Linked DNA regions of Homo sapiens: region 1 is linked to region 2. A link means that fine-mapping ties the variant in region 2 to the expression of a gene that starts in the linked region. Tissue or cell type: whole blood. Region 2 holds a variant in brackets; the other region holds the start of a gene. All regions are shown on one strand. Distances are between the middles of the regions.

The links. PIP is the estimated chance that this variant, and not a neighbour inherited with it, causes the effect.
Region 1: it holds the start of NEDD9, and the variant in region 2 is fine-mapped to the expression of NEDD9 in whole blood (TOPMed, PIP above 0.99).

What each region holds. Positions count from the first base shown.
Region 1 is chr6:11,231,429-11,233,928 of GRCh38, reverse strand. It overlaps NEDD9 (neural precursor cell expressed, developmentally down-regulated 9), which reads left to right and starts at 1,261. Exons shown (of 7, transcript NM_006403.4): 1 at 1,261-1,425. The coding sequence starts at 1,414. RefSeq lists silencers at 1,174-1,223, 1,704-1,753.
Region 2 is chr6:11,322,674-11,325,429 of GRCh38, reverse strand. The region is part of intron 5 of LOC105374925 (a long non-coding RNA gene); the gene reads right to left. It also overlaps a transcript of NEDD9 not described here. Among named protein-coding and RNA genes, the nearest start is that of NEDD9, 91 kb to the right of the region's middle. The variant C/T (reference allele first, on the strand shown) is at 1,552.

The sequences.
Region 1 (2,500 bases), 91 kb after region 2:
GAAGGGAATCAGATTCTGATCCAACTTGGTCAGGAAAAAAAAAAATAAGGGCTGATTTTTCCATCCAAGTCATGTAGTCTGGTTGGAGTGCATCCCACTCAGGGACAGCTATTGTCTGGATTCACCGAGTCTCAGTCTTGCCCGGGAAAAAGGAATTTTTCGCCTCACTGCTCTGTCCGTGAGAAGAGTTGCAGAAGGTGACCATTTCTGTTTTCTGGGTGATTCTCTTTCTCTATAGAAATCCTAAAATGGAACCTTTATAGAAATTATGTTCTGTGCTTCGCTGGAGAGAGACTGGTCTTTTTAACCAGGCTCATCAAACAGTGGGCATTTTCGTTCTCCTGGATAATAAGTGTTGGTGGGTTAATGGGTCATCCTCAGGACAGAGGTCAGAAGGAAAAACACTGCAGTGTTCAAAGCTGGAGCTAGAAATGCCAGCCGTCAAAGAACACAGAACTCAGTGGACGGTGATGATGTATAGGGCGTGCACTGGCCAACCCCATCCGAGAGGTCACATCTAACCTTTATCCTCAGCAAAGCCACTGAAGGTCGCTCAATATGTGTGACCCGCAACTCTGAGGCCCTGGTGAGAAGCTGTCCAGGAAAACGCTGGTGCGTGTGCTAGAGGGTTCCTTTTCACTAAGGGAGAATTGTCTTCCAGCTCCTTGCAGACTGACATCGCAAAGTACTTTGAACGTTGAAAAGAACAAAAAAAGCAAACAGTCACACACACACAAAAAGTAGGCGGGAGGAGGGGGAAAGAAAAAGGGACAGAGAGAGAGAGAGGTATCAGCAGGGGTGGTTAGTAAAAAGGGGCCCGGAGACAGAAAACCTTTTGTTCCCGGAGTTCGTTTCATGTAGAGATTGTGAGGTGAATGGCTTTGAAACGAAATGGGTTTATGAAGGAGTTGCTAGGTCACAGGAAGCGCGACTGTCAGACTGCTTTTGTGAATTCAGTTTCTTTAAAATTTGGGTTAATCTTAAAAAGAATGTATCTCCTTTTCCTGTTCTTTCTCTTTCTGTCTTCTTTTTTGGCGGGGGCGGGAGGACAGAGTAAGGTTCAGGACGGTTCCCCACTTTCTGTTTTATTTTCCACCGTCTGATAAAGCAAAAAGAAGCGATCACATTACAAGTTCTTTGTCAGTTTTTCAGAATTAGGGGTGGGCAGGGCCTGAGCATTACCTTGTCCCACTAGCCAATGGCGGGGCGGCATGCAAATGAGGTCCGCGATCAGCCTGCCTCAGTCACAACAGTGAGCTCAGAGACTTGAGGGAGGCGCTGCGACTGACAAGCGGCTCTGCCCGGGACCTTCTCGCTTTCATCTAGCGCTGCACTCAATGGAGGGGCGGGCACCGCAGTGCTTAATGCTGTCTTAACTAGTGTAGGAAAACGGCTCAACCCACCGCTGCCGAAATGAAGTATAAGGTAAGAGAGTGCCTTTTACAGGTTACCTTGCAAGCTGAAAGCTGTGCCTGCGGGTGTGTGCTTGTGTATGCGTGTTCCTTACTGTCAGTCCCTTGTGTGTCCCGGAGAGTTCTAAGATGAGTCTCGGTCACTGAGGTTGACATGCAAGCAGACAAGCAAGCAGAGACCCGGTCTTTGAGACCCACTCCAGGGGTTCACAGTACACCCGAGTCCATCTGCTCTGAAAGTTGCCGGGGAAATACCTCGGTGAGAAGTTAAGACTTGGAGCCGCTTCACAGCAGCCACTGGAGATCAGAGGGTGTCTGACTTGAATCGCGGCAGGCATTGGCTCAAGTCTCCTTGGCTTCCCCAGGCCTGGCTTCCACTGCCCTGGGGAACTGTAATGAGAGGAATGAGGACTGCATAGTCTGTCTCAGACTGGCTCTTAGTGCAAAGTTTTCCAGACTTTGCTTTAATCGTTTGGTCTCGGAAGGAGTATGCCATATGCACTTTTGGTGGGAGAAATTAAAAGCCCAGATTACACAGCTGAGGATGGAAAATTTTGACATCCTTATGTTATATTGGATGTAGGAATAAATAAGTATGAGCCATTTCTTGAAAACATTTTTATTGGAGTTTGAATGGGGTGAGAGTGCGAAGGCTCAGGCTGGCTCATTGTGCCTGAAAGCTTACAGAGTGTCATAGTCATAGTACTTCAGCAGCATTATTTTCCAATGCATTTTACACCATTGTTTGTGGATTTTTCTTGCCAAAAGGATTTTTGACTTGCTCCGTATATTCCCCCCTCCCCTTTTTCTTTTAAGTCACTCCCATCTAAGGAGGCAAGCAGCTTCCAGGGGACACAAAGAAAGCAGACTGCAATGAATTGGACATGAATTTTTCTTGAATGATGAATAGACATGAGTGCTAGTGCTACTATTTTATTTTATGCTATTTTAAACAAAAGTGTTATTATTAAGATGGATTTGGGCAAGGGTGCTAGGCTTGTGGATTGACAATTTATATTAACTGTACACTAGCTGGAAGCTACTTCGCTTTTTTTCTAAATTTTTCTGGTCCATCCTTTTTTGATGTA
Region 2 (2,756 bases):
GGAAAATGCTGCACAAAACTAATTCAATGCTTTTATTTCGCTTCTCAATAATGCACATTCTTTTTTTTTTTTTTTGAGACAGAGTCCCTCTCTGTCACCCAGGCTGGAGTGCAGTGGCATGATCTCAGTTCACTGCAACCTCTGCCTCCTGGGTTCAAATGATTCTCATGCTTCAGCCTCCCGAGTAGCTGGGATTACAGGCACCCGGCACCACACCCTGCTAATTTTTGTATTTTTAGTAGAGACAGGGTTTTGCCATGTTGGCCAGGCTAGTCTCAAACTCCTGACCTCAGGTGATCCACCACCTCGGCCTCCCAAAGTGCTGGGATTACAGGCGTAATCCACCGTGCCCGGCCTGATACATGCACGTTCTATCAATGCTCTCTACCTTTGGCTTACTGACAAGTAAGGAAGAATTTAAAAAAGGCCTATGGGTTGCCTTATCTTTCTATTTCTTTCTGTGTCTTCATTTTCAGTTTAAGTTGTTTGCAAATGCAAAGAAGTAACATGAGTAAGAAAGGTCAAACCAAGTTTCCTTGGTCATATGTGTTTCTTAGAATACCACTGCTGCCTTTGTGTTTGAAGCAAGTTTTGGTTTTCAAATGGAAAGTGTGGCCTCTCAGGGCTGTCAGTGTCCCTCCCCCTCCCCAGCTAACTCATCATAGACAAAACACACTTGGGAGTCACTTAGAAGCTTCATGAACTCCCACACATTGTGAATACACCAGAATTCTGAGTTCATGGCGAATGCTCCATGTGAATAGGGTGACAAGAAAGGACAGGCACACGTATCTCCTGTGTTTCTGCTCATTCCATGCTGTCTCATCAGAAGTCACTTACAAAATACAAGTTTCAAGAGGAAATTATTACAATTTTAATACGGTGGCCGCAGAGCATGAAACCCATCAAGAAGTCCTTCTGAGCACCAAGTCCTATGCAAGCACACAGGTGACGTGCCATGAAGCTGGCCCTGCACGTGGGGTGGCACCATGCATGAAAATGGTGAAGAGATCCCAGGGGATCGGGCGGTGCACTGAGAAGGAACACCAGGCATCCAGACCTGCACACAGGGCAGTGTGCACAGCAGGAGTCCAGGGCAGCCAGAGATTCACTACCAGAGGTACAGCCCGAGAGCACATGCCATGCCAGGAAAGAGGAGACAGGCAGAGACAGGAAGATCAAAGTGGAGGGAGAAAAGCCAGATTACTGGTTAACTAAGACACTCAGCCGGCAGTGTCAGGAGAGAGCCACAAAATGAAGGCAAGGGAATCACGGAAGCCAGATACTAGCAAAGGGGCATCGGAAACCAGTGGCCACGTGGCTCTGATCCCAAGCACTGAGTGCCCTCCCCGGCATCCTTGTGGGGCTGTGAGGTTCGTTTCATGTGTCTGGACGTGGCTCCTCAGCGTGGTCTTCCAGCTCCTCTCATCCCTCTACCCTCTTGGTAAAAACAAGACATCTTCTAGGAGTGAGGCAACCTCCCCGCTGCCCTGTAGAGAGCCACACTTCTGCTTTTCTAGTGTTCTAAGAATGCTTTTCCTGATTTATCAT[C/T]GTTAAGAATGGGTGGGAAACTAGCTATGTTGAACATGTGACGTGCAAGGTGGTTAATGGTGATCCACCAATGAGCAGGACGCCAGGACCTTGTGCAACTGGGAGACTTTGCAACACCACAGCGGAAGGCTGTCCCTCAGAGGTTTGTAGCCACCTAGGGGCCTCCTTCTATCACCCATGACTAAGTCTTCTGCATTAGCTTAGAGCAGTGTTTTTCAGCCTTGAAACCATGAACATTTGGGGCCAGACAGTTTTCTGTTGTGGAAGACTGTCCAGTGTACCGTAGGATGTTTAGCAGCCTCTCTGGCCTCTGTTCACTGCATGCTAGTAGCAACCCCCTTTCCCTACCCTGTGACAAAAATGTCTCCAGACGTTGCTAGATGCTCCCTGTGGGAAATCATCACCCTTGGTGAGAACCTGTGACTTTGAGCCCATGAGCCCTGCAGAGGATCATGTCTGAGAGGACGCCACTCCCACCACATGCTCTTCCAGCTGGAATGGTTGTCTTTGCAGTGCCTGCTTTTCTGAAAGTGTCTCTTTATTGCTTTGGCTTCCTTCTAGCACTATATTCCCCACTCCTGGGCAAGTTAGTAAGGCCTGGGGGTATAGTAAAGTCACTCAGTGGGCAAGTCTCCTTGCTCTGTGTTCATCCAAAGAGAGTTAGATCAGCCTTGAAAGTCACTGCAAAATATATATATCCTGAGGCCTACAAAGATTTTTGTGAGCTCACCGTCCCTTTGCTAACTCTCTAGGGCACTGTGTACTACTATGTAGCAAGAGCTCAATGTTTGCCAGCCTTGTCATATGTTTTGTCTCTTTTAATCTTCAAAGAGAAAAAAATAACTCCTATAACATAACAGCGTATCTCCTATAACTTATAAAAAATTCCTATAAAGTAGTATTGACTCCCATGCCGGGAATTAATAAGTAACTTGCCCAAGACCACCCAGGTAGTAAATGGATTTGAACTTGGGTTTTTTGGCTGCTGGTCTAAGACCTTTTCTATCAATGCTTCCCTGGCTTCGTGCATGTAAGAATCACCTGTGGGTGTTTGCAAACAATGCAGGTCCCCAGGCCTCGCCCCTAGAGCCTTGGTAGGCAGGTTTAGAGCAGGCCCCAAGAATCGGGATTTGAAACATCTGATGAAACACGTCATTCCGGTAATGACTGTGCAGGTGACTGCCCCTTGAGTAACACTGAACTCC